Linked DNA regions of Homo sapiens. The protein of the gene in region 2 interacts with the protein of the main gene of each other region in a pairwise test. Each region holds a gene or a part of one and is shown on either strand. Other genes may lie near its edges.

Region 1 (9,786 bases), on a different chromosome or scaffold from region 2:
CAAGGGTATCTAGGGATAGACAATTCAGTGTGGGAACAGGATATGTGCTTGCTCTCAGAATGACACGAAAGCATCATAGAAATTACACTTACAAATCCAAAGGATAGAAGAAAAGCACCAAATATTTCCCCTTAAAGTCATCAAGGCTTAGGTCTTTGAACTCTCCATTGACAACGGCTGTACCCTTAAAATAGGGTGCATGCTGGGTGACAGCAGGTGCATGGCATGAGGAACCTGAAAAAAAACCCACACTCATATGGAGTTCATCATTTGCTATGTCAAGCACCTATGATTTTATTTAAACTTCTCATAATTAATTAGTAGTATAAAGTGCTTAGTATAAATCAAAACATTCGGTTCAACTGTACATCTTAGGCACAGTCATCCTTTGCCACCTGTGGGGGGATTGGTTCTAGGATATCGAAATCTACAGATGCTCAAGTCTCTTACATAAAGTGGTGATTTGCATATAATCCACACACACCCTCCAGTATACTTAAATCATCTCTAGATTACTCATAATACCTAATACGACGTAAATGCTACGTAAATAGTCGTTAAGCTGTATTGTTTAGGGAATGACAAGAAAAAAAGACTTTGTGTTCAGTATAGACACAACCATCCATTTTTCCCTCCCAATATTTTCGATTCAACCAACCACAGATGCAGAATCCAGATACAGAGGGCCAACTGTAATTTCTCCTTCTATAGTTTTAGATTGTGCACAAATTCAATTCCAACTGCTACAGAAACTAAAAAGAGGAAGACAAAGTAGGGATAGAATTAAGGAAGACATGAGACTAGAGATGGATTTTAAATATGGTTCAGATTTTGTCAAGTCTAGATGGGATGGGGCAGATGGCATGTAGGAAACAGCAGGAAGGAAGACAGGACATGTGTGTGGAGCAGCGTGTGGCAGTCTAATGAGAACAGAGAGTGTCTAAGGGTACGGAGTGAAGAGCAGGCAGCAGGCAGGAATGGTTGAAGGCCATGTTGCAACAGTCCTTAAATACTAGGCTGCTGGGTCTTCTTAGCAGGAAAGATAACAGAGTCAAGGGCGGAGTCTCGCTCTGTTCGCCCAGGCTGGAGTGCAGTGGCACAATCTCAGCTCACTGCAAGCTCTGCCTCCTGGGTTCACGCCATTCTCCGGCCTCAGCCTCCCGAGTAGCTGGGACCACAGGCGCCCGCCACCCCGCCCGGCTAATTTTTTGTATTTTTAGTAGAGATGGGGTTTCACCGTGTTAGCCAGGATGGTCTCCATCTCCTGACCTCGTGATCTGCCAGCCTCGGCCTCCCAAAGTGCTGGGATTACAGGCGTGAGCCACAGTGCCTGGCTGAGATGGGGGTTTTTAGGAAGATTAGTCCGGCAGGAGGGAAAGAGGAGCAGGAGGAAGGGGGAGACATGTTAGGAGGTGGTTTCAGTGATTTTTTTTTTTTTGAGACAGAGTTTCGCTCTGTCACCTAGGCTGGAGTGTAGTGGCATGGTCTCGGCTCACTGCAACCTCCGCCTCCCAGGTTCAAGCAATTCTCCTGCCTCAGCCTCCCAAGTAGCTGGGATTCCAGTAGCACACCACCACACCCGGCTTATTTTTTTTAAGTATTTTTAGTAGAGACGGGATTTCACCAGGTTGGCCAGGATGGTCTTGAACTCCTGACCTCAAGTAATTCGCCTGCCTTGGCCTCTCAAAGTGCTGGGATTACAGGTGTGAGCCACTGTGCCCAGCCTCGATTTCAGTGATCTTAGACGTATTGAGGGGAGGTATGGGGCAGAAAGAACAGAAAGGAATGGATGCAAGAGATGTGTCAAAACTGAAAAGGACTTGCTTCTACCCAGGAATGAGCGACAGAGTAGTTCCAATGTCAAAATGCCTGACACCGCCATGAACAGAAACAGGAGGCGCTGCTGGGGATGAGGATTCGAAACCAGTGGAGTAAAGTTTTAAGCCTGTGGTATCACATCACTACTAGAAATATTTTGAAGCTCCAGGGTAGTAAAATTGCGAAAGCTCTTAGAACATTTTGCCCACAAACAAAGGCTTTACTAAAGTATATCCCCACAAACCATTACATATTAAATACGGGCTTTTTCAAAGGCTAGTCAAATCTAGACAAGGTATTTTCAAATACCACTCATTATCTGAGGCTGATCTTAGCAAAGCCCATATCCTAGAGAAGGGAGTGTAAATCTCAAGAAACAGCTAAATTTCGCTCAGATTACAGATACCATTAGACAGGTCTGGTTCCTAAGTGGCCAGCTGGGGCCATTACACAGGTTTGAATCTTAGAGCAGCTGCCCTCTCAGGTCCCCCACAGGCTGCCCACCACTCACAGCTCTTCAGACACACTAGACTCAGAAGGCATCTGAGCTCCCAGTAACACCCTCCTCAACACAGTGGATTAGAAACTCTGACAACCAACATGGAAATGTGACAAGGGCAGTTTGCCTCAGTGATTCTCAACCCTGGCTGCACGTTAGAATCACCCGGCACATCCTGGTCTCACCCCACAGACTAACTTGTCTGGGGTGGGACGGGGGCAGTGCTGTGTTCCTGAAAGCTCCCAGGTGACTCTAACGTTTGGCCAGGGTTCAGAGCCCCTGTCCAGAGACGATGGTTCATTTTTCCTTTACCTGGCTCCAGCCAAGACATGACATAACACTTACTGGTGCTGAATAATTTTGCTTGACTGGAACCAGAACACAATAAATTTGTCAAGCTCGTTCTTCCACATGCAGCAGGCCTGAGGGCTGCAGTGGCAGAAATGCCCCAAGGAATGGCACTCACATGTCGGGCAACCTGGAAAGAGAAACTTTTTATTAGAAAGTTTTCCTGGACTGGTGACTGAAGGCTGAAAGGGCATCGTGCCAACGGTGGTTTCAGCTGTCCCTGTTCCTGTGAACCAAATAGCAAACCCCAAACTCTAAGAGCATGGATTGGATCTGCATGTTCTTAACACTCCCTTCTGCTTCCTTCTCCTAGGAGACTGGAAGGTGGAGAGGAACTATAAGAACACAAAGACCGGCTGGGCGCGGTTGCTCACACCTGTAATCCCAGCACTTTGGGAGGCCAAGACGGGTTGATCACCAGGTCAGGAGTTCGAGACCAGCCTGGCCAAGATGGTGAAACTCCATCTCTACTAAAAACACAAAACTTAGCCAGGCGGCGGTGGCGGGCACCTGTAATTCCAGCTGCTTGGGAGGCTGAGGCAGGAGAATTGCTTGAACCCGGGAGGCAGAGGTTGCAGAGCCGAGATCGCGCCATTGCACTCTAACCTGGGCGACAACTCCGTCTCAAAAAAAAAAAAAAAAAAAATCAGAAACTCCATGCGCTTAAAGCAACACAGGGTTCAGAAGCCAGGGGACTTGTGCAGGCTTTTCCCAGCACTATCTGCTGAGTATGTTCTACCATTTCAAGGTTTTCCTTAGAAAAACAAGGCCCCTCCAGCACCAGCGACAAGTAAACAAGAAGAGCCAAATTCAGCCTCTGGGAGTCTGTTAAAGGCTCAAGGGACATGTTTACTCAACTTTTTTTTTTTTTTTTTGAAACAGAGTCTCGCTCTTTTACCCAGGCTAGAGTGCAGTGGCGCGATCTCGGCTCGCTGCAGTCTCGACCTCCTGGGCTCAAGTGATCCTCCCACCTTAGCCTCCCCAGGAGCACTGACCACCATGCCCGGCTATTTTTTTTTTTAGAGACAAGGTCTCACTATTATTGTCCAGGCTGGTCTCAAACTCCTGGGCTCAAGTGATCTGCCCGCCTCGGCCTCCCAAAGTGCTAGGATTACAGGCGTGAGCCACCGCACTCTGCCGGTTTGCTCAACTTTAATGTTCAAAATGACTCAGGAGAACGAAAGGGGCTGTGTTGAACCCCACCAGAGAAAGCCGTGTACCAAAAGAGCACGACGCATTGCCCACAGTTAAGCAGGAAACAGCAGCAGAAACACGCGGGAGTGGGATTGGGAGGGAAAGCCTTTGTGAGTTTTTTAGCACTTTGCGCGTTTTTATCCAGTATTTAAGGGGCTGTTCACAGCAACGCCTTGATGTAGGCATCATTCTTTCCATCTTAAGTACACAGTCTGAGAAAGGCGAAGGCGCTTGCCCAAGATCACAGGGTCGGTGGCAGAATCAGGGCCAGGACCTTAAGTGGAGATGGGCCTGGGGACCGGGGACGCCGAAAGAGGAGGGACTCGGGGAAGAGACCGCGAGGATGGAGTGGGGAAGGGCGGTTCTGCGCAGGCGCATGGAACCTTCCCGGAGGGAGGCCTCTGGGTCCGTTACCCGCGGAAACCCTCCAAGAAGGGCGAATGGCCCTCATGCCCAGAAGCGCGGGGTCCTGTCTGAGAAGCACGTTCCCGGAGCCACCAGTGTCTCCACGCCTGTCCCCAGCCGACAGCCACTCACCGACGCTCGGAGCAACCGTCCTACAGCAGCCGCCATCTTCAGTGCACTCGGGCGCCACGGGGCGGGCAGAGACGCAGGGGCGGGGCCTACGGGGTGGTGAGCGGGCCCTCTGCTGGTGGGGGGGCGGGGCCGGAGGAGCCACCGCCTCCCCGCCTCCTGGAGACCCTGAGGGAGAAATTCCCTTTAAGGCTGAATGCTTGGGCAAGTGACACGTGGTTTTCCTACTGTCGCCCCAACCTTAAAAGAACGAATCCAGGCGGGGCATTAGGTATTTGTTTCCATATTTCCCACTGTTTTGTTAACCTTGTGTGGATTACTGTGTCTAGTATTTCTGTGACAGGATCCCTTTCTTATTTCAGCCTCAGGTAGAGACTTCCGGCTTCTGTATGAAATGGAATTAATTACAAATGCAGTTTTAGTCCGTTAATAAGCTAAGTGGGCTAGACACATCAAGGCTTTGTTGGCCTGAAATCCGCTGGAATTGTGTGTGGTCTAACATTTGGCCTCTCTTCCCAAAATTGGGAAAACTGGGACAAATTTAAAATTTGGTTTTTGTCTATTAATGAAGCCAAGTGTTCAGTGGTGAGCATAGTACTTGAAGCAACCACATCAAACATAGATAAAAATCACACCGTGGCCTTACAGTAAGTGTGACAAATTGCAGTCTTGGAGCTGGTATTTTCTTTTCTCTTTTCTTTTCTTTTCTTTTTTTTTTTTTTTGAGACTGGGTCTTGCTCTGTCGCCCAGGCTGGAGTGCAGTGGCATGATCTTGGCTCACTGCAACCTCTGCCTCCCGGGTTCAAGCGATTCTCCTGCCTGAGCTTCATGAGTAATTGGGATTCCTGAGCAGCTGGGATTACAGCCGCCTGCCACCATGCCCAGTTAAGTTTTTGTATTTTAAGTAGAGATGGGGTTTCACCATGTTGGCCAGGCTGGTCTCAAACTCCTGACCTCAAGTGATCCGCCCACCTCGGCCTCCCAAAGTGCTGGGATGATAGGCATGAGCCACTGCACCCGGTCTGAGTTGGTATTTTCCAATCACTAGTCATTCAATTAGCAACTTCGTTTCTCAAGTCTTCTTATCACCAAATATCACTTACTATTTTCTTTAAATTGGCTTTCTTTTTTTTTTTTCCTTTTCTTTTTTGAGACAGAGTCTCACTCTGTCGTCCAGGCTAGAGTGCAGTGGCACAATCTCGGCTCACTGCAACCTCTACCTCCTTGGTTCGAGCGATTCTTCTGGCTCAGCCTCTCGAGTAGCTGGGATTACAGGCGTGCACCACTAAACCCGGCTAATTTTTTTAGTATTTTTAGTAGAGATGGGGTTTCACCATATTGGCTAGGCTGGTCTTGAACTCCTGACATCAGGTGATCCTCCCACCTTGGCCTCCCAAAGTGCTGGGATTACAGGCGTGAGCCACCACACCCAGCCCAGTATATTTTCTAAAATCATCTCAGGTACCACTAGGCGCCACCCTGGGTACCAGTCCCCAGATGTGGAAAGGACTGCCTTGGATGTGTGGGGACACACGTTTCGACTATTTCACCTCACACCTTCCTTGTGTTTGTTTAATTGGTTTTAATTATGTCTGTGTTTAGCAGATGATTGAAAAGGAGACAATCATTTTGGAGCTCAAAATCGTACTGTAGGCCGGGCGCAGTGGCTCACATCTGTAATCCCAGCACTTTGGGAAGCTGAGGTGAGTGGATCACCTGAGGTAAGGAGTTCAAGACCAGCCTGACCAACATGGTGAAACCCTTTCTCTACTAAAAATTGCAAAATTAGCTGGGCATGGTGGTGCATACCTGTAATCTCAGCCACTTGGGAGGCTGAGGCAGGAGAATCACTTTAACCTGGGAGGCAGAGGTTGCAGTGAGCCGAAATTGAACCAGTGCACTCCAGCCTCAGCAACAAGATTGAAACTCCGTCTCAAAAAAAAAAAAAAAAATACTGTAGTTCACAATGGAATATTATTTATCCATAAAAGGAATGAAATACTGATATATGCTACAACACAGATGAACTTTGAAAACACTAGCTAAGTGAAAGAAGCCAGACACAAAAGAACAAATAGTGTGTGTTTCCTTTTATATGAAACATCTAAAATAGGTAATTCCAAAGGGACAGAAAGCAAATCAGCAATTGTTAGGGACTGGGAGAAGCTGGCATGGGGACTGACTATTTATTTTTTATTTTATTTATTTATTTTTGAGACAGAGTCTCCCTCTGTTGCCCAGGATGGAGTACAGTGATGCAATCTCAGCTCACTGCAACCTCAGCTCACTGCAACCTCTGCCTCCCAGATTCAAGCAATCCTCCTGCCTCAGTCTCCCGAGTAGCTGGGACTACAGGTGTGACCACCATGCCCAGCTAATTTTTTTTTGTATTTTTTAGTAGAGACGGAGTTTCGCCATGTTGGCCAGGCTGATCTCGAACTCTTGACCTCAAGTGATCTGCCTGCCTTGGCCTCCCACAGCGCTGGGATTACAGGTGTGAGCCAGTGCGCCCAGCCGGAACTATTTAGTAGGTACAGGATTTTCTTTTTTTTTTTTTTTTAATTTTATTTTTATTGATCATTCTTGGGTGTTTCTCACAGAGAGGGATTTGGCAGGGTCATAGGACAATAGTGGAGGGAAGGTCAGCAGATAAACAAGTAAACAAAGGTCTCTGGTTTTCCTAGGCAGAGGACCCTGAGGCCTTCTGCAGTGTTTGTGTCCCTGGGTACTTGAGATTAGGGAGTGGTGATGACTCTTAACGAGCATGCTGCCTTCAAGCATCTGTTTAACAAAGCACATCTTGCACCGCCCTTAATCCATTTAACCCTGAGTGGACACAGCACATGTTTCAGAGAGCACAGGGTTGGGGGGTAAGGTCACAGATCAACAGGATCCCAAGGCAGAAGAATCTTTCTTAGTACAGAACAAAATGAAAATTCTCCCATGTGTACTTCTTTCCACACAGACACGGCAACCATCCGATTTCTCAATCTTTTCCCCACCTTTCCCCGCTTTCTATTCCACAAAACCACCATTGTCATCGTGGCCCGTTCTCAATGAGCTGTTGGGCACACCTCCCAGACGGGGTGGTGGCCGGGCAGAGGGGCTCCTCACTTCCCAGTAGGGGCAGCCGGGCAGAGGCGCCCCTCACCTCCCGGACGAGGCGGCTGGCTGGGCGGGGGGCTGACCCCCCCCACCTCCCTCCCGGACGGGGCGGCTGGCCGGGCGGGGGGCTGACCCCCCCCCACCTCCCTCCCGGACTGGGCGACTGGCCAGGTGGGGGGCTGACCCTCCCACCTCCCTCCCGGAAGGGGCGGCTGGCCGGGCAGAGGGGCTCCTCACTTCCCAGTAGGGGCGGCCGGGCAGAGGCGCCCCTCACCTCCCAGATGGGGCGGCTGGCCGGGCGGGGGGCTGACCCCCCACCTCCCTCCCGGACGGGGCAGCTGGCCGGGCGGGGGGGCTGAACCCCCCACCTCCCTCCCGGACGGAGCGGCTGGCCGGGCAGAGGGGCTCCTCACTTCCCAGTAGGGGCAGCTGGGCAGAGGCGCCCCTCACCTCCCGGACGGGGCGGCTGGCCGGGTGGGGGGCTGACCCCCCACCTCCCTCCCGGACAGGGCGGCTGCCGGGCGGAGACGCTCCTCACTTCTCAGACGGGGCGGCTGCCGGGCAGAGGGTCTCCTCACTTCTCAGACGGGGCGGTTGCCAGGCGGAGGGTCTCCTCCCTTCTCAGATGGGGTGGCTGGGCAGAGACGCTCCTCACCTCCCAGACGGGGTCGCGACCGGGCAGAGGCACTCCTCACATCCCAGACGGGGCGGTGGGGCAAAGGCACTCCCCACATCTCAGACGATGGGCGGCCGGGCAGAGACGCTCCTCACTTCCTAGATGGGATGGCGGCCGGGAAGAGGCGCTCCTCACTTCCTAGATGGGATGGCGGCCGGGCAGAGACGCTCCTCACTTTCCAGACTGGGCAGCCAGGCAGAGGGGCTCCTCACATCCCAGATGATGGGCGGCCAGGCAGAGACGCTCCTCACTTCCTAGACGGGGTGGCGGCCGGGCAGAGGCTGCACTCTGGGCACTTTGGGAGGCCAAGGCAGGCGGCTGGGAGGTGGAGGTTGTAGCGAGCCGAGATCACGCCACTGCACTCCAGCCTGGGCACCATTGAGCACTGAGTGAACCAGACACCGTCTGCAATCCCGGCACCTCCGGAGGCCGAGGCTGGCGGATCACTCGCGGTTAGGAGCTGGAGGCCAGCCCAGCCAACACAGCGAAACCCCATCTCCACCAAAAAAATACGAAAACCAGTCAGGCGTGGCGGCGCGCCTGCAATCGCAGGCACTCGGCAGGCTGAGGCAGGAGAATCAGGCAGGGAGGTTGCAGTGAGCCGAGATGGCAGCAGTACCGTCCAGCTTCGGCTCGGCATCAGAGGGAGACCGTGGGGAGAGGGAGAGTAGGGAGAGGGAGAGGGAGAGGGAAGTCCAGGATTTTCTTTTGTGGTGATGAAAATGTTTTGGAACTAGATAGAGGTGGGTATAACATTATGAATTAACTAAATACCCCGAATTGTAAACTTTAAAATAATTAATTTTATATTTGGTGAATTTCACCTCAATTAAAAAAAAAATTAGAAAAAGGCCAGGCATGGTGGCTCATGCCTGTAATTGCAGCGCTTTGGAAAGCCAAGGTAGGAGGATCACTTTGTGCCCAGGGGTTTGAGACCAGCCTGGGCAACATAGCAAAACCCTGTCTCAAAAAAAAAAAAAAAAAAAAAGAAAGAAAAAGAAAAAGGAAAAGAAAAAAAAAAGAGAGAGAGAAAATGTAGAAGAAATAGGGACTAAAAACATTATATACTGTAGTCTACTCCAGTGATTTAATAGATCTAAAAGGCTCAGAAAACTGAGCCTTTTGGAGATGGAGAGACCTTCCCAAAATCACATCACTGGCTAGAAGCAGAGAGGTAGGGCAAGAACCCAGAAATTCCATACCACTGACCACCCAGCGTGTGTGTCTGATGGAGTTCAGCCTCAGCACCTTTTCCCCAGCCAACTCGTGAGATTACGTCATCCACACCCTCATCGTCTCCTCTTCTCCCTCATACTACAGGGTTGTTTTTTTGGTAGAAACAAGGTCTCGCTATCTTGCCCAGGCTGGCCTTGAACTCCTGACCTCAAGTGATCCTCCAGCTCCCAAAGTGCTGGGATTACAGGTATGAGCCACTGTCACAACAGCCTGCAGTTTTAAAGTACTTAAGCTTCAGTAGCTCAAGTCAACAAAAGGGGAGGGGGGAGGGGGGCAAAGCCAAGCCAAGGGGTCGCCTTCTCTTCTCCTTATGCCCACAGCCCTTTGCCGCCCACCTCTCCCTTCCCCATGCTGGAGGGCCTCTTGCTCTCCTATT
Region 2 (10,588 bases):
CCCTGGACAACACAGTGAAACCCTGTCTCTACCAAAAAAAAAAAGGCTAAAAGAATTTAGGATAGGCCGGGCGTGGTGGCTCACGCCTATAATCCTAGCATTTTGGGAGGCTAAGGTGGGCGGATCACAAGGTTAAGAGATCAAGACCATCCTGGCCAACATGGTGAAACCCCATCTCTACTAAAAATACAAAAATTAGCTGGGCGTGGTGGCACACGCCTGTAGTCTCAGCTACTCAGGAGGCTGAGGCAGGAGAATCACTTGAACCCAGGAGGCAGAGGTTGCAGTGAGCCGAGATGGCGCCATTGCACTCCAGTCTAGCAACAGAGTGAGTCTCCATCACAAAAAAGAAAAAAAAAAAAAAAAAAAGAATGTAGAATACTGGCCTGATCTGGAGGGAGAAGCCTACCATTACACATCATTTCAAATTGGATGCCAAGGCTTCTTCGAAGACATGGCCTGGCTGTCGTTACACACTGTTCACTTGAGGACGTTTCCACTGACTCTGTAATTGTCTTACAAAAGTTCTACATGTGTTCAATTTTATAATAAAATGCTATCAGCAGCTGGGCTTGGTGGCTCAGGCCTATACTCCCAGCACTTTGGGAGACTGAGGTGGGAGGACTGTTTGAGCCCAGAAGCTTGGGACCAGCCTGAGCAATATGGTGAAACCCTGTCTCTACAAAAAATACAAAAATTAGCCAGGCATGGTGGGGCACACCTGGAGTCCCAGCTACTCAGGAGGCTGAGGTGGGAGGATCATTTGAGCCCAGGAGGTTGAGGCTGTAGTGAGCCACGATGTCACCACTGCACTCCAGCGTGGGTGACAGAGAGACGCCCTACCTCAAAAAAAAAAAAAAAAAAAAAGGCTGGGTGAGGTGGCTCACACCTGTAATCTCAGCACTTTGGGAGGCCAAGGCGGGAGGATCACTTGAGGTCAGGAGTTCATGAGCAGCCTGGCCAACATGGTGAAACCGCACCGCTACTAAAAATACAAAAATTAGCCAGGTGTGGTGGTGCATGCCTGTAATCCCAGCTACTTGGGAGGCTGAGGCAGGAAAATCACTTAAACCCAGAGGCAGAGGTTGCAGTGAGCTGAGATCAAGCCACTGCACTCTAGCCTGGGTGACAGAGTGAGACTGTCTCAAAAAAAAAATAAAAATAAGTAAGAACACAGCCAAATCACCACTTTCAGCCCGTGTTAAAGGACAAAGGGGTGAGTGGTGGATTCTAGAAGATCTAGAAGTTTTTCTGTCCCACAAAGGGTCCCATGCAGAAAACAGGTATCAGTTAATGATTAGGGTCTCATGCAGAAAACAGGTATCAGTTAATGATTATCCTCATGATAAATTGTTCGTCAGTCCCCTAATCGGAATTGCCGCTTCTCTGTACTGTGGGTCGTATATTACAGAATGCGCATCTGTCTGATGCGCAGATACTAACAGGAGACGGAGCAGGGTCCCCCACTGTCACAAACTCTGCACCCTGCCTAAGTCAGTGCTAGTTTCATGAATGTTTTCAATCCACACCTTCGCCCACCTCACAATATGGCATGGGGCTGTGTGTGCGCCTTTCCCCTCATCCTAATGGAAGATGCAACGTCTTCCGAGTTTGAGAGTTTTCCACAGCAGCCTTCTCGGGCTAAGCCATGGTATAACACCAGGCAGTGGCAGAAGGCAAAGAACACATCCAAGACAATGACTGCCCTCACTAAGGACAAGAAAAAAAAGGCAAAAAGCATTTATTCTTTTTTTTTTTTTTGAGACAGGGTCTTGCTCCGTCTCCCAGGCTGGAGTGCAGTGAAACAATCTCAGCTCGCTGCAACCTCCGCCTCCCCGGTTCAAGCGATTCTCCTGCCTCAGACTCCCAAGTAGCTGGGATTGCAGGCACTTGCCATCACACCTGGCTAATTTTGATATTTTTAGTAGAGACGGGGTTTCCCCATGTCAATCAGGGTGGTCTTGAATTCCTGACCTTGTGATCCGCCCACCTCAGCCACTCAAAGTGCTAGGATTACAGGTGTGAGCCACCGCGCCCGGCTCTTTTTTTTTTTTTTTTTTTTTCCAGACAGGGTCTAGCTCTGTTGCCCAGGCTGGAGTGGAGTGGTACAGCCTCAAACTCGTGGGCTCAAGCGATTCTCCCCCCTCAGCCTCTCAAGTGGCTGGGACCACAGGTGCGCATCCCCATGCCCGGCCTCATTATTTTACATTTACTAAAACCTGGGGCTGAAATAGGAACAATACCAATGCTGAGCTGGACACAGACGAGGCTGTTCGCAGCTGTCAGGTGACAATGTTGAACTGACTTCAGCTCTGTGCTCCTGGAAACCAGCAAAGGTGAAACCCCGTCCTGCTGTGCTCTGGAATTGGGACAGCCAGGACCCTCCCTTCCCATACGACTTAGATAAGATTCACGCAGATGACAAGGCCAGATTCAGACCCTCCGAAATCCCATTCTTTGTCATCAGAAATGATTCACTAGGTTAGGTGTGCCCAGGCTGGAGTGCAGTGGTGTGATCATGGCTCACTGCAACCTCTGCCTCCCGAGTTCAAGCAATTCTCCCTGCCTCAGCCTTCCAAGTAGCTGGGATTACAGGCACACACTACCACGCCCGGCTAATTTTTGTATTTTTTAGTAGAGATGGGATTTCACCATGTTGGCCAGGCTGGTCTTGAACTCCTGACCTCAGGTGATCCACCTGCCTCAGCCTCCCAAAGTGCTGGGAGTACAGGCATGAGCCACCGCGCCAGGCCTAGCCAACTCTTCAGATGCCTGCATACTTGACGGTCACAGAGCTCTCCCCCTGCAGCTGTCTCCCTGTGGCTACAGCATTAGTCCCGCAGCTCAATCATCAACTGTCCCCATGCCCCTGTTGCTTATACCCCCACCCCACTGCAATAGAACCTCAAGCCTCTGGCATTACTCTCCTGCCTCTAATCCAACTAACCCTTCTCCCTATTGCAACAGCCCCTTCTCCCCCTCCCCCAATACCTCGCAATAATCCTTTTTCATAAAAGTTTCCTTACTACGTTTGGGTTTACACAAGCTTGACCACATGTTCGCAGCCTCCCGTTTCTTCCCCAAACTTTACTCAGCCTTCTGTCCTCTCCGCAGGCCCCTGAACTTTGGCCCCCCCGAGTCTGAGCAAGCAGTAAGTGTGGAGTCCCCTGTCACCTCCCCTGAGCTAGCTGACCACGAGGAGGTACATTTACTGTCAACCTCCTTTCTGCTTGTCCCCTAAAACGTTCCTCCAAACCTTTTCTTGTGTATGAAAGTAAAGCCTTTTCCTGGTTGATTTTGAGACCTGGCAGGTTTCGGAGGCTGGGGCTTATCCCTATTTTTCTCTCTCCTTCTCTAGCCAGGATTTTTTTTTTTTTTTTTTTTTTTGGTTTTTGTTTTTGAGACGGAGTCTTTCTCTGTCGCCAGGCTGGAGTGCAGCGGCGCCATGTCGGCTCACTGCAAGCTCCACCTCCCAGGTTCACGCCATTCTCCTGTCTCAGCCTCCCTGGTAGCTGGGATTGCAGGCGCCCGCCACCACGCCGGGCTAATTTTTGTATTTTTAGTAGAGACGGGATTTCGCCATGTTGTCCAGGCTGGTCTGGAACTCCTGACCTCAGGTGATCCGCCCGCCTCGGCCTCCCAAAGTGCTGGGATTACAGGCGTGAGCCACCGCGCCCGGCCCAGGATTTTATTATTTGACAGGCTCCAGGACAGGGCACCACCTCCTCCTTGGCAGACCTTCCCAAACTGACCACCAAGCCCCTGACGGCTCCTGCCCTCTCCTCCCACTCTCCCCGATCCCCTGACTGCCTCTACTGTCCCCCAACACATCCCTCGAGCCCGACTCCCTTTACTGTCCCCCCAAACTTCCCTCAAGCCCCTGATCGCCTCTACTGCCCCCCTTAAAGTGCCCCTGAGCCCCTGACTGCTTCTGCTGTCCCCTCGAGCTGCCCCCAAACTCCCGACTGCAGCTACTGTCCCCCTAAACTGCCTTCGAGCCCCTGATCACCTGTCCCCCAAAACTGCCCCTTCAAACCCATGACCGCCTCTACGGCCCCCTCAAACTGTCCCCGAGTTCCTGACCGCTGCTATTGGCCCCCTAATCTGCCCTTGAGCCTGACTCCCTTCCACTGAACCCCCAAACTGCCGCCGAGCCCCTGACCGTGTCTGTTCCCGCAAACTGCCCCTGTGCCCCTTAAACCTCTACTGTCCACTTAAATTGCCTCAAGCCCCTGACCACCTCTGCTGTCCCCACAAGCTCTCCCCAAACTCCTGACCTGTACTGTCCCCAGAAACTACCCCTCGAGCCCCTGACCGCTTTTGCTGTCACCCCAGACTGCCCCCAGCCCTACCCCTCGGCCGCTGTGACCACGTCCCCGGGGCCCAGGCGCTCGTCGTGCGCCGCCCCGCGCGTCCCTCAGCTTTCTCCGGCTGCGAACTCGGGCGGAAGCCGGTTCCTGCCGCCCCACCTCGCCCTGGGCCCGGGCTCGGCTCCCGCCCGGCACTCACCATGTCCCGCCCGCTCCTGGGCTCTCCAGGGTTAGCGCCCCGCGGTCCAGCGACCGGCGCAGGTGAGCACGACAGGACACCTGAGCCGCTCGGGGTAGGCGGGGAAGCGCGCAAGGCAGAGGGGAACTCGGCTTACCGTCCTCGGGGTCTGATTGGACAGATCTCGGGAAGTGGAGACTCTGATTGGACAGTGCTGTCGACTCCGCACCCCTGATTGGAGAATTCTCCAGTCCGTCCCCCTAGCGCCCTTGATTGGGCAGGGCTCCGCTTCGGATTAACGTCTCTGATTGGACAGTTCCCTAGGCCCCGCCCCTGCCTGTCCTGATTGGATAATTCTCTCCTCAGTGACGGGCTCGTCGAGAACACGCGTGGCTGACCCTCTAGCCGGGCAGCCGCGGATCTGGGAGAACTCACTCCAGTCCAGGGAGGGCGCGGCGTCCTCCTCCCTGACTGCACGGCAACTCCAGACTCAGTTTCCCCTCGGAGCGGCCCCTCGTGCGGGGAGGAGAGGAAGGGCACGGAGTCCCATGGGGCGGAGTCCTGCGTGGGGGCGGGACCCGCGTGCGTGACGTCACCGTGCTGTCCCGCGTGGGCGCGGACGCCTGGGGTCCAGAGACCTGGAGATCTGGAGACCAGACGACGAGGCCCCAGGAGGCCGGACCCCACCAGGCGCTCCCTGTGTTCTTAAAACTCTCGGCCGGGCGCGGTGGTTCACGCCGGTAATCCCAGCACCGTGAGAGGCGGAGACCGGCGGATCATCAGAGGTCAGGAGTTCAAGTCCAGCCTGACCAAAATGGCGAAAACCACTTCTCTCCTAAAAATACAAAAATTAGCTGGGCACGGTGGCGGGCGCCTGTAATCCCAGCTACTCCGGAGGCTGAGGCAGGAGAATCGCTTGAACCCAGGAGGCGGAGATTGCAGTGAGCCAAGATCAGGACACTGCACTCCAGCCTGGGCAACAAGAGCGAAACTGAGTCTCAAAAAAAAAAAAAGCAGCCCTCCCACAAACAGAACCACGTAAGGTCATGAAGAGAGAGGTCTCACATTTATATGCTTAATAACGAAAAAGACTCTACAAAAACCACAGGCTTAAACAAAAAATACTTTTACAGGGACACTCAGACTGGTGTGACCCTTGTTACTGATCTTTGTAGACAAGGATAATTATTTCTGAAAAATGATGTAATCCTCATTTAAAATTTTTTTTTTCCTTTATAAACCTTTGTCCCAGTCTGGGCAACATGGCAAAACCCCATATATACAAAAAATACAAAAATTAGCTGGGAATAAAGGAGTGTGCGCCTATGGTCCCAACGACTTGATAGGCTGAAGCAGGAGGATCGCTCGAGCCCGTGGGGATTGAGGCTGCAGTGAGCTGTGATCTCACCATTGTACTCCAGCCTGGGCAACAGAGACCCCCGTCTCAAAAAAATGAAAACCAAAAACAACCTTTGTCTTCCTTTACCTCCCTGAATAAGCACATAGTTTGCTATGCCGCGCATATTCCCACTGCAATGAACTGTTACCACCGTTTTTAGACAGCCTGTTATTTAGGTCGACACAGTAAAAACATGAATTACGACAATTATGTTTGTATGTAAAATGGCAAGCGATATAGAGTTTATACTTCTACTCTGTCTCAAGCTGGAAAGTCTTTTCGGAGATGAGCAGTCGCGTTCCAGGCTTTAGGAATTGCGGCTCAACTGAATAAAAGTATTCAGAATTTTCACGTCGAGTTCAAATTTATTTAAACTTCTATGATTATTTTCTCAAATGAGTTAAAATAAGAATTCAATTACCATAGGAACAGTACAGCCTTTTACTTTAAGAAATTCTCTAGGGCCGGGCGCAGTGGCTCACGCCTATAATCCCAGCACTTTGGGAGGCTGAGGCAGGTGGATCACCTGAGGTCAAGAGTTCGAGACCAGCCTGGCCAACATGGCAAAACCCTTGTCTCTACTAAAAATATAAAAATTAGCCGGGCGTGGTGGCACATGCCTGTAATCCCAACTACTTGGGAGGCTGAGGCAGGAGAATCACTAGAGCCCGGGAGGCGGGGATTGCAGACCCAAGATCGCACCACTGCACTCCGCCTGGGTGACAGAGCGAGACTCCATCTCAAAACAAAAACAAACAAAAAAACGCCATTTGAACGACACGTTTTGTTTCCCCCCGCTTTATTATTTTTAAAAAGTACCATGGTGTACACATTGCATTACAATTGTTTTTGTGGCTCAATGAAAAAAATAAATCCTCCACCTCTCTTCATCTTAATAGGTGACTTCCTTACTCCTTACAGATGTAAGATGATGTAAGCTGATGTAACAAGGTCTCTCTAAATAGACAGTGGACTTGTTTCCAATCTTTTGCTACTCAAAGCTTGTCTTATGTTGCACCACCATGCCTGGCAGATTTTTGTATTTTTTGGTAGAGATGGGGTTTCACCATGCTGGCCAAGTTGGTCTGGAACTCCTGACCTCAAGTGATCCGCTTGCCTCAGCCTTCATCAATGGATATTAATGAAGCTTAGGATACTCACATTGTGTCAAAGATAAGAGGCAAGGAAACTACAAAGAAATTGGAAGTGATAGGAAACAGTGGAATAACTGTCAGAGAGGAAGCAGTGGGAACAAAAGACAGGAAAGAAAAACATGCCTATTATCAGAGTCCCTGAAGAAGTAAACAGTAGCACAGCTTTTCACCTTACATCATTAAGAAACACATAAATAGGCCGGGCGCGGTGGCTCACGCCTGTAATCCCAGCACTTTGGGATGCCAAGGTGGGCAGATCACCTGAGGTCCAAAGTCCGAGACCACCCTGACAAACATGGAGAAACCCCATCTCTACTAAAAATACAAAAATGAGCTGGACATGGTGGCAAATGCCTGGAACCCCCGCTAATCGGGAGGCTGAGGCAGGAGAATCACTTGAACCCAGGAGGTGGAGGTTGCAGTGAGCCGAGATCATGCCACTGCACTCCAGCCTGGGCAACAAGATCAAAACTCTGTCTCAAAAAAAAAAAAAAAAAAAGGAAAAGAAACACATAAATACTATAATAAATGTAGCAACGTACCTTGCAGAAGATCCAAAGGTTGCTTGTGGAATTGGGCAAGGGAATCTAAATTTCCAGAGTTAGTATGCAGTGGTGGAGAGAGGGTTGTCGGAAATCTAATGTTAAGTTTTAAAGCAGAGGAAACAGTGTGACTTGGTATTTGAGGTGTGTGCGCGCATTTTCTGTTTTCCTACCAGACTCTTCAGTTATGTGCAATTTCTTCTGTTCACTTAGTGTTTCTTAGGGTTGAAACTGAACATAAACAAATATGAAATTCGTGTTATACTCACATTACTCAACATATCAGGTAATTTGTGAAGACAGAGATGTTTCCTGATCAATTGTTCTAGCCGACTGACAGCCAATATCTACATAGAATTATTTCAAAGTCGCAGGGTGCGGTGGCTCACGTCTGTAATCCCAGCACTTTGGGAGGCCGAGTTGGGCGGATCACAAGGTCAGGAGATCAAGACCATCCTGGCTAACATGGTGAAACCCCGTCTCTACTAAAAATACAAAAAATCAGCTGGGCGTGGTGGCGAGTGCCTGTAGTCCCAGCTACTCGGAAGGCTGAGGCAGGAGAATGGCGTGAACCCAGGAGGCGGAGCTTGCGTTGAGCTGAGATCACGCCATTGTACTCTATCCTGGGCAACAGAGCAAAACTCTGTCTCAAAAAAAAAAAAAAAAAAAGAATTATTTCAAAGTCAATTGAGTGGCTGGGGGCAGTGGCTTACGCCTGTAATCCCAGCACTTTGGGAGGCCGAGGCAGGCGGGTCACGAGGTCAGGAGTTCAAGAGTAGCCTGGCCAAGATGGTGAAACCCCATCTCTACTAAAAATACAAAAATTAGCTGGGTGTGGTGGCGGGCACCTGTAGTCCCAGCTACTCGGGAGGGTGAGGCAGGAGAATCACTTGAACCCGGGAGGTGGAGGCTGCAGTGAGCCGAGATCACACCACTGCACTCCAGCCTGGGCGACAGCTCGAGACTCCGTCTCAAAAAAAAAAAAAAAAGTAAATTGAGGACACTGTAACACTCTGCTCTTAAACACCTCCCAAATGCTATTTTAGAGAAAAATCTGTATTTTTATCTAAAAGTCCACACTTCATATTCGCACTTTAGATAGTTAACAATCATTCCTTTATACCTAGCCCATAATCGTATTTCCTTCAATTATACCCCAAATGGTCTTTACAGCTGGTCCTCCGAAGATCCAACCCCAAACCAGGTATTGCATCTTCTTTTATTTTATAGTATTATATGGTCATGTTGAATTTTTCTTTTGAGGTGTAGTCTATGAATTTTTGTGTATGTATAGCGTTAACGGGTGAATTGCGTCCCCACAAATCCGTAAGGTGAAGGCCTAACCCACAGTACCTCAGAAGGTATTTGAAGATAGGCCTTTAAAGAGGCAATTCGATTAAAATGAGATTAAGGTGGGCTCAAATCCAAAAGACTGGCGTGCTATTCATTGCAGGGTGTTGAGCAGCACCCTAGACCTCCTCATCCACTGGATGCCAGTCGCCCCAACCCCATCCCCGGTTGTGACAACCAAGTCTGCAGACATTGTCCAGTGTCCCCTGGGCGTAAAATTTCTCCTCCCCTCTTTGATAATCACTGCTTTAGACTCTATTTGGTCTTAGAGTCTTTTCTCTGAAGTCCATCATTTTATCCGCCGTAACCCTGCTGTCTTCACTTAAGGGGTCCAAGACGTTTACAGGAGGGTGATAATGGTGATGATGAGCTGCCAATAATAATCCACACACAGCACTATTTGACAAATGCAGGTAATGTTATGTATTTTACAGACCTGGAAACTGAGGCACTTAGGGGCTTGGCAACTTGCCTAATATCACCCGAGAGCTGATTAAGGCTTGGGGCCAGGACTGGGACCCCAGGATGAAGCCCAGCTGAGCAGAAAACCTCTGTGCACAGGATGCAGCAATCAAGATAATAAAAATCAACTCCGACTGAGAAAGTATCTGCCTACACATTCATCAGGCTGGGAGGACAGACCCAGATGGTATCAGTTGGAAAATTAACAGAAAACAGTATTTTTGCCAAGGACACCTTTTTCTGAGCCATCAATGTCTTCTAGCTCGCTAAATGCCTTCCTTGCCCATTACAATCATACACAGTGATTGACATTTTATCAGTAAGAATAAACTTCCCTTTTCCGGCCGGAGGGTCTGATTTTCTTGGACACAGAGAATCCGTCTCCATTTCCAACCCAGGTGCAGGGCTCTGATAAGCGGTTTCCGGACATAACAATCTACAGCGGTCTTATCTTGTGGTTCCCAAGGAAACAGGTCCCGGCTGCACTTCGCAGCCCAGACCCGAGGGTGACCCCTTTACAAGCTTGCTCTTTGCCAAATGGAAACCACGCAGTATTTACATTTCACCTAAACCCCACCCTTCCCTCCAAATCCGATGGGTTACTCAGGCCTAGGATCCTCAGGCCTAGGGGGTCAAAACGCCCCGCGTCCCCAACCAAGACCCCTGAAGTCTAGCGGGGTTCCACTGGCCTCCGGAGCCTCCTCCCTGGGGCGCGGTGCCAGGACTTCGCCATTAAACGAGCCCGCCCCCTGCACTTTGAACTCTGCCCCCATCCTTTGACCCAAACCCCCCTACGCCCCGGCATCGGAGTCCCCTTGCTTGGCCTCTGCCACGAAGATACGGGGCCAGGTCCAGCAGTACAAGGAGGAGAAACCGCTCTCACGGGAGGCGCTGCGGCCACTGAGGGAGACGGCCGCCGCGGGTCACAGACGGATGCTTCCGTTTCCGGTTCCGGGGCGGCTGGGAGCTGAAAAGTGGGCTAGTAATGAGCTTGGGATTGGTGGAGCCTCAAAGATAGGCGGGACGACCTACGTCGTCCAATCGCTGAGCAGGAAAAGCTAGTTTCCGCCGTCTGGGAGATAATTGGCATTGTTGGCAGATCCGCCCCTCGAGGGCAAGTCTCGGGACAGAATCGCGCTGTGGGCGTGGCTTGTACTGGATCCTCCCCGGGGCGTGGCTAAAACAAGACCGAG
Region 3 (9,452 bases), on a different chromosome or scaffold from region 2:
CAACAAAAAAAGCGACATAAAAGCTGAAGAAAAATTCAGAACTCTTAAAATGAACACTGTAAGATAAAAGACAGTAATGCAATGTCACTACGATTCTGAAAAAAAATATTATTTCCTAACAAGGTTTTCATACTGGAAGAACCTACATATACCAAGGTGGAATAAAGATGATTGAAGACATTTAAGGTCTTAAAAATTTACCTCCTAAGCATCTTTCTGAAGAAAACATTGTAGGACATGCTCCACCAAAATAAGAAAACAGTCAGGAAAGAGCAAGGCCAGGATGCAGGAACGTGAGGAGTTCACAAAAGAGAGAAGTAAAGGAATCCGCTGGATTACAATGAAGAGGTCACAGAAAGGGATCCCCATGCATCAGGCATAGAACACCAGATTGGAGCAGACAAGAAGACTCTGGAAGACAGTGCTCCAAGAAAATGAAATGGACAGAATATCTGATGGTTCTGAAGCTCTTAAGAGGAGATGTGGTAGATAGCAAGGGATTTAATTAGTCATAACTACATAGAAAACTATACAAATACACAAAAAGCAAGACTACCATTAATGCAAGAAAAAAGTTGAAAAGAAAAGGATAACAGATCACAGGTTTTGGAAGGCATTCTCATGTATATATATGATAACTATAAAGGCTGAATAGTGATATAATCAAAATTACAGTAAATCTATAATGGGAATCAGAAGCGTGTACATGTGTAGGCAGGCAGGGAGAAAGAAGAGAGCTAGGTAAATCTTCACCTTCCATATCAGGAAGCCAATATATAATGTTCAAAACAATGTAAGTATGTTATCAACTACCAAAAGCATTACCTGAAAGAAAAGAGTAGAAATGATTGCCTGTGGAAATGAAAATGGGAAGAAAAGGTGTAAAAACTCCTGCTTTTTTTTCCTTAGCAAACCTTATAAAAATATTTGACTTGTAAAAATGATATGAATGAATAATTTTGATAAAAACTAAAAATAACACAGTATTGAATGCTTACTATGTGCTAATTACTGCTGTTATGTTCTTGGCACTTTACAAGTGTTTAATTCTCACAATCTTGAGGTGGATACAGCTCTGATCACTATTTTACAGATGAGAAAACTGAGTCACAAAGAATTTAAGTAACTTGCTTAAGGTCCCATAGCTAATTAATACCAATATGAATGATGTCATTCAGTAGTATAGAATTTAAGTGCCTCATCAATGTCATGGACAGTAAAGTCTATTCCACTGTTCTCTGATCCCGTGCTCATCACATTAATATATCATCAAAAGTTCAGGCCGGGCGCGGTGGCTCACGCCTATAATCCCAGCACTTTGGGAGGCCGAGACAGGTGGATCACAAGGTCAGGAGATCAAGACCATCCTGGCTAACATGGTAAAACTCCACCTCTACTAAAAATACAAAAAATTTGCCGGGTGTGGTGGTGGGCGCCTGTAGTCCCAGCTACTCAGGGGGCTGAGACAGGAGAATGGCGTGAACCTGGGAGGTGGAGCTTGCAGGGAGCTGAGATCGCGCCACTGCACTCCAGCCTGGGTGACAGACCGAGACTCCGTCTCAAAAAAAATAAAAAAAAAAAGTTCAGCTATCCTTGAAGAAAATATTGCAAGTCATATATCTGATAAGGAATTAATATCTAGAATACATAAGGAACTCACAAAACTCAACAACTAAAAACCAGCCAAATTCAAAAATGGGCAAACAACTTGAATAGACATGTCTCCAAAGAAGATATATAAATGGCTAAGAACATGAAAAGATGTTCAACATCATTAATTATTAGGAAAATGTGTATCAAAACCACAAGGAGATACCACTTCATACCCATTATGATGGCTGTTATCAAAAAACAGGAAACAGTAAGTGTTGGCGTAGATGTGGAGAAATTAGAGCCCTTGCGCATTGCCAGCGAGAATATAAAACAGTTCAGTCGCTGTAGAAAACAGTACAGCAGTTCCTCAAAAATGTCAACATAGACCTATCATTTGATCCAGCAATCCTACGCAAAAGTACATACACAAAAGTATATACACAAAAAAAGTATACACACAAAAGTACTGAAAGCGGAGATTCCCACAGATATTTGTATACAGAGATATTTGTTCACAGCAACTTTATCCACCATAGCCAAAAGATGGCTATTATGAATAGCCGATGGATGAATCAATCAACAAAATGTGGTATATTCATACAATGGAATATTAGTCATCTTTAAAAAGGAATTAAATTCTGATACATGCCATAACATGGATGAATCTTGAGGACACTATGTTAAGTAAAATAGTTGTATTAGTTTGTTTTCATGCTGCTCATAAAGACATATCCGAAACCGGAAACAAAAAGAGGATTAATTGGACTTACAGTACCACATAGCTGAGAGGCCTCTGAATCATGGCAGGAGGCAAAAGGCACTTCTTACATGGCAGTGGCAAGAGAAAATGAGGAGGAAGCAAAAGCGGAAACCCCTGATGAACCCACCAGATCTCGTGAGACTTATTCACTATCATGAGAATAGCACGGGAAAGACCGGCCTCATGATTCAACCAGTTCCTCTTTGGTCCCTCCCACAACATGTGCGAATTCTGGGAGATACAATTCAAGTTGATATTTGCCCAGGGACACAGCTGAACCATATCAATAATCTAGACACAAAAGGTCAAATATTGTATGATTCCACTTACATGAGGTACCTAGAATAGTCAAATATAATACAGACAGAAAGCAGAACAGTGGTTACCAGGAAATGAGGGAAGGAGAAATGGGGAGTAATTGTTTAAATGGGTACAGAGATTTGGTGTGGGATGATGCTTAATGCCACTCAACTGTACAGTTAATATGGTTATAATGATTAATTTTATGTATATTTTATTGAAATAAAAAAGGATACAAGGGAATGAGCTACTGATATACATAACAACATGGATGAATCTCAAAATAACTATGCTAAGTTAAAGAATCCAGACAAAAAAACCGTGCACATATATAATTCCATCTGGTTAAAATTCTAGAAAATGCCAACTCATCTAGTGACAGAAAACAAATCCAGGCTGACACAGTGGCTCACACCTGTAATTCCAGCTCTTTGGGAGGCTGAGCAAGGAGGATCTCTTCAGGCCAGGATTTCAAGATCAGCCTGGGAAACATATTGAGACCCAGTCTCTACAAACAAATAAAAAACAATAAAAAAAGAAAACAGATATGTCAGGAAGAGGAATTGCAAAGGGGCACAAGGAAACTTCTGGAATAATGGGTATGTTCATTATCTTGATAGTGGGGATAGTTTCACAGGTGTGTTGAAACTTATAAAACTATAAATGTTCAATATGTATAGCTTATTGTATGTCAGTTATTCCCGAATAAAGCCATTCACAGAGGGGAGAAAATGTAGCCATTCTTACAGGCTTAGCCTTCTCTTGACAAATGGGAGATGCCACTGCTGGTTATCCTTTCTCACTGGTGCTGAAACACTGCCACTCTCTTTGTTGGTAAAAAGTTACAGGACTGTATTTACACATTTCTCCCCTGCTCTGCCTCTTCTGATCTGGACCATCATATCCCTAGTCTGGATTACTTTGGTCACCTCTGTGAGCTCTCCTGTTTCTGGTGTTGCTTCCCTTCTTCTACTCCTCAGTGGCTCCCCATCTCACTCCAAATCCAAACCTACTACTTTGTATTCTAACATGACAAAGCCCTACCTTCTGCCACCCATTTACTTGTCCCTTTGTCTTCATTTCATTTCCTCTTCTCTCACTCTATTCCATCCACACTTGTTGCTTCTGAAACATCCCAATCATGTTCTATCTTCCCGCCTATGTGCTCCCGCTTCAAATTTCTCAGTGGCTCATTCTCTCCGTCCAATCTGCTTAAATGTTACCCCTTTAACAAGGCCTTGCCTGGCTCTCCTACCTAAAATTGTAAGATTATCCCTCACCCTTGTTACACAATCTACTTTTATTTTCTGTTTTCCCTTGCTAGAATGTGAGCTTGATGAGGGCAGGGATTTTTGTCTGTTTTGTTCACTGATACATGCTCAGCATCTAGACAACTGACTAGCAAATAGTAGATGCTTATTGTTAAATGAAAAAATAATTGCATAGGCATGAAAAAAATGTAACTTTGTAGATCAAATAAGTTTTTTCCCCCCCTTTGGTCTTCTTGTGAGCCTTCTTGGCTCTTCATGGGAGACCTTATTGTTAGATGAATAAATAACTGGATGGTCACCCCCAAAAATGTGACTTATAAGACCAAACAAGTTTTACTGAGCAGTATAAGTGATTTCAAAAATCACTGACAAGGCATAGCATGATACAATAAAAAAAAGCTAGGTCAAATAAGCTTTGAGATTTTAGACAGGGATGCTGGGACGCTAAGATAACATTAAACATCACAGCGTTTTTATGAATACTCCAAAACTCCAAGCTGTAATTATAAACTAGCTTTTCATGGTCTCAGTGATGAGCTGAGAAATATAGAGCAAGTCATGTTAAAATAGAGATTCAAGAATTACGGGAACAAATTTCCATCCTTAAGGGGATGCAATTTTTCCCAAATCAAAGACATGAATGGAAATCCTAGAATTCCAAGAACATTATTGCAAAGTCTCTACTTTCCAGCCTATCACATGCTCAACAGGAAACATGGATCGGTTTCTTCCTTTTGTGAGCCTTCCTGGGTTTTGGATTTTTGTTTGTTTCTTTGTTTGTTTTGAGACGGAATCTCACTCTGTCGCCCGGGCTGGAGTACAGTGGCGCAATCTCAGCTCACTGCAACCTCTGCCTCCCAGGTTCAAGCAATTCTACTGCCTCAGCCTCCCGAGTAGCTGGGACTACAGGTGCGCACCACCATGCCCAGCTTATTTTTCTATTTCTAAGAGACAAGGTTTCACCATGTTGGCCAGGCTGGTCTTGAACTCCTGACCTTGTGATCCACCTGCCTTGGTCTCCCAAAGTGCTGGGATTACAGTTGTGAGCCTCCGCGCCCAGCTGCCTTCCTGGCTCCTTGTGGGAGGTCTGGAAAATAATGTCAAGAATATGCAATACTTGGCACTAGTTTAAAATCTTAAGAATTGCTTTTCTTTCTAGAAAGACAATTTCACAGAAAATGTTTCCTTCCAGACAAAGAAACAAAAATGGTAGCCAATAGTTACTGTTGATCTAAGTGATGTTTCTGAAGGTGTTCCAGTCAAAGAACAAGGTGCTGGACCATATTAAACATTGGGTTTTTAATGCCTTCCCCGCTAAAGTTCGTTTTTTATAGCTAGGAGTAACAAGCAATTGCCAGCAAAGCTGGAATAGGAAAATCAAATATTCTGCCTATTTACATATGGTTCCCCGAAGCCATTCCTGATTAAAAATTGTACCATTTCAATCTTCCTACTGGAGATATCTATTAACTAGAACGGCATGTGAAAGCCAATGAATTTAGTATATAATTACACGTATCCTATACAAATTACTTCTCAATGACCTCTACTCATGAAAATAAACCAAAGAGGGATGACTGGCTCATTATAAATCTACAAGAAGATTTCCCTGGGAAAAGGTATTGAGAGCAGAGTCTTGAAAGATCTTAAGCTTCAACTGAATTTAATTTCAGCAGGAAGCAATCACTTCTGTATCTGAATTCCCAGTGCATTTTACGTGAACCTCTCCAGTGGCAAGGAACACTTTCCAACTTAAATCCCTGCTCTTATCACTAAGTAGCAATGTGACCTTGGCCAAGCCACTTCCCTTCTCGGTGTTTTCATTTGTAAAATGAAAGGCTAGAATCAAGTGATTTCAAAAGTCTCTTTCAAACCCAATGTTTCATCATTTCATAATTATAATCACGAGAGCCCACCTATTACCTCCCTATTACCTCAAAGTGAGAAAGCCATTGATTTATCTTTGGAGTTCCCATACTGTCTAGAACAGCTCATTGACAAACAAGTTCAAGGACACAGAAAAAAATACAATTCTCTGAAGTGTCCACTCTCTATGACCTCCTTAAGCCCTTCTCAACCTCAACCAAAATTTTAAACCAAATGATTCTCTTCAAGTCCACCTTTGCCATAGTTCTGGCATTCTGCCAAGGATTATAAGACCAGAAAACTAAACAGATATCACTTGTCACTTAGAAGACATGCGCCCACCATAGAGTTTCAAGGCACATGCTTTGTACACCATCTGACCCAGAGCCACATGCTTTGTATGCCGTCTGACACACAGCCAGACACCTACAGAAAGGTTCTGTTTCATCGAATAAGATAATCTGATGCATTCCAATCATCTGAGAGTATGTGCTGGAAAGCTACAGCAGATGTGGGTGAGAAGTAAAGCTGGAGAAAGGAAGACACCAGGACCTGAAAGAAAAAGCAAGTGGAATGTCCCCTTAACCTTTCCAGAAGGTGGACATTTTAAAAATCCAAGTCCCTGGCCAGGCGCAGTGGCTCACACCTGTAATCTCAGCACTTTGGGAGACCAAGGCATGCAGATCACGAGGTCAGGAGTTTGAGACCAGCCTGGCTAGCATGGTGAAACCCCGTCTCTACTAAAATTATAAAAAATTAGCTGGGAGTAGTGGTGCATGCCTGTAATCCCAGCTACTCGGGAAGCTGAGGCAGGAGAATCACTTGAACCCAGGAGGCGGAGGTTGCAGTGAGCCGAGATCGTGCCACTGCACTCCGGCCTGGGAGATAGAGCAACACTCTGTCTCAAAAAATTAAAAAAGTAAAATAATAAAATAAAATCCCTGAGACGGCTACACTGCTGGGATAAGAAATACCTGCTCATAATGCACATAGCCTTAGGTGTTAAGATTCTGAAGCCTGGATATTTGTCCTCAAATCCTAACTCTGCTAATTACTTGCTGCATCACCATGAACAAGTTAATCAACCTTCTGTGACTCAGTTTCCTCATCTGTAAAATGAGGATAGCAATAGTACTTCATTACTATTTTGTTCTTTGAATTGTTGGGAAGACAAAATGAGTTAATGCATGTAAAATGCTTATAACAGCATGTAGCACGTAGTAGGTGCTCAATAAATGAGCATTCCCAGTATTGCTATTATTATTAGATGGAGTTCTGAGAATTTCTGCAGTTAAGAGAACAAAGGAGGCCGGGCATGGTGGCTCAAGCCTGTAATCCCAGCACTTTGGGAGGCCGAGGTGGGCGGATCATGAGATCAGAAGATTGAGACCACGGTGAAACCCCGTCTCTACTAAAAATACAAAAAATTAGCCGGGCGTGGTGGCGGGCGCCTGTAGCCCCAGCTACTTGGGAGGCTGAGGCAGAAGAATGGCGTGAACCTGGGAGGCGGAGCTTGCAGTGAGTGGAGATCGCACCACTGCACTCCAGCCTGGGCGACAGAGCGAGACCCCGTCTCAAAAGAAAAAAAGAAAAAAAAGAGAACAAAGGAGTTTGCACACCGCTCTTACAGATTCAAATTCTACAGTTCCCTCTTTAAGTACCAACATTTCTATATTTATATGTAATTTATATTTGTATACTTTGTCAGTCTTAATTACTCCTGAGCATAGAAACTATTCATTAGACATTTAAATTCCTTTCTGAAAGATATTCTAGGTTTCAAAAACTACTTGATCACCCACGGGAAGGGAGTACAATAGGACTATTAAACTGGAGGGCTCAGAGTAATTGGGAGCACAAAGACATCTTTGTAGAGCTTTGTACTATCACATACCACTGCTTCAGGTTTGGAGAGTTGTCTCCTTAAGAAAGAAACTAACTCCATTGTTCGTTCACATCAGAGTTCTTGGATGTGATAGTTCTTAAATCCCTGGCAAGTCCTTATTAAAGATCAGAGGATCTCCGTTCTTTCCATTAGGACAGCGTTAAATCCCTTCAAGCGATTTTCTTAGGTCAGCATCATTATTTGAGATGCCAGAGAAAGTGGTGAAATTTCCAAATGCTAAACTAGTTCCTTGTTTCAGACTGAAGACATAAGATAAAGTTAGAAAAAATATTAGTAGTTCTGAGGAAATTTTTGAGACTGGGAAATTGTAAGAAATTTAAAGAGTACTTTAAAGATCTTTTTTTTCTTAAATCTCTTTTCCAAAACAGTAATTTTAGTAAACAAATAACAACAACAAACAAAAATCCAATCAAATAACTAGAGTTGTCAGAAAATAATGACCCTGGAAAGTTCCAGTCATTCCCTGATGGGATATCCAGAATTCTGGTTTTCCAAACATCTTTCAGTAAATCAGACAGGAGAGCTAATACTATGTCTTGTATCCCTTTGCCAAATAATCAGACACAAAAGAAAGTCAACAGAGGTCATGCTCTCCTCCATCTGTTCAACTACCATTTTTGTAATTCTATTCTAAGGAAAAATGAGGGCCATAAACACACAGAAACAATAATAGAAGAAGAGAAATGTGGGTGGGCTACTAAGAGGTAGCCTACGATCTGTTTCAAGGGGATTATACATCAGAAAATGCAAGAACAAGTCTACCACAGCCACCCAACAAGGTCTAAAACTGCAGAATTGGGTAAAGAGCTAGGGAGTTTCCTGAAAATAGAGGACTGTCTGCTTACAAAACCTACCTCAACTGCTTCTGGCAAGGAAGGACAGTAGTTACAAACTATAGGAAGCCAAGAACAAGTCCATATTTGACAAATCACACCCATCAAGATAGTGATGTCAACCATAATAAAATATTTTGGCAGGTCTGGAAATGTGCACCTGTGGGAACCTGGAAAGATTTGACAGATTTTTGTTTTCCCAGCTCTTTATCAGCAAGTTAATTATAGCAACTGTACAATCTCCTCTGAGCTGTAGAGAAGACAGTCGGCTGTATGAAACCAAGAGGCTGCTCTCCTGGGCACAAGAGAGACAAATGACAGCAGTGCTTACGTGCGAAAATATTCTGAGTACAGTATAACAATGAGCCAGCTAGCATGGCCAGATGAGAAAGAGGCATATTCTGCAGACATACAGGTGTGACAAGACTAAAAAGGACACATGATACACACACACGCATGTGCATGTACACACGCAAGCACACATGCAAACATGTTCATGTATATGCGTGTGTATCTCCAGAGCCTAAACAACTCGGGTCATATTATTACATACAGGGCTGCTTTTTCCAAGAGCAGACTGTACCTTCACAGCTATAACTGTACACTGCCACCGCTGACCTGTCCACCAGATTTTCATCATGATGCCAGCTCACTGCCATTTTCCCCATGCCAAAATAAGGTTCCTCTTTCAGGTATGGCATTTTCTGAGGATCCATGAAATTCAGCAAAGTTACGTTGTATGCTGCTCTGCTCTTAATGTCCACTTCATCTTGTCCGTTGTAGGATGAACCCATCCCAACCCTGGGGAAATCTGCAGACATACACAATGGCACAGCATCCTCATTAGCCTTCTCTTTGGCAGCAAGTTCTTCCAAAGCCTGGATGGTTTCTATCTGCAGGTAGTCATTGAGCTTGAGGAAGGT

The links.
Region 1: the proteins of ZNF77 (region 2) and PRDX3 interact in binary tests that used the Homo sapiens proteins (3 or more experiments, as listed by UniProt).
Region 3: the proteins of ZNF77 (region 2) and FTO interact in binary tests that used the Homo sapiens proteins (3 or more experiments, as listed by UniProt).

What each region holds. Positions count from the first base shown.
Region 1 is NC_000010.11:119,174,359-119,184,144, forward strand, and holds the start of PRDX3 (thioredoxin-dependent peroxide reductase, mitochondrial isoform a precursor), read right to left. Parts: upstream 4,455-9,786; 5' UTR 4,433-4,454; coding exon 4,397-4,432; intron 2,796-4,396; coding exon 2,663-2,795; intron 235-2,662; coding exon 93-234; intron 1-92. UniProt on the Homo sapiens protein: Thiol-specific peroxidase that catalyzes the reduction of hydrogen peroxide and organic hydroperoxides to water and alcohols, respectively. Plays a role in cell protection against oxidative stress by detoxifying peroxides.
Region 2 is NC_000019.10:2,940,329-2,950,916, forward strand, and holds the start of ZNF77 (zinc finger protein 77), read right to left. Parts: upstream 4,644-10,588; 5' UTR 4,513-4,643; coding exon 4,510-4,512; intron 1-4,509. UniProt on the Homo sapiens protein: May be involved in transcriptional regulation.
Region 3 is NC_000016.10:53,826,152-53,835,603, reverse strand, and holds part of FTO (alpha-ketoglutarate-dependent dioxygenase FTO), read right to left. Parts: coding exon 9,113-9,452; coding exon of another isoform or gene 9,083-9,112; intron 1-9,082.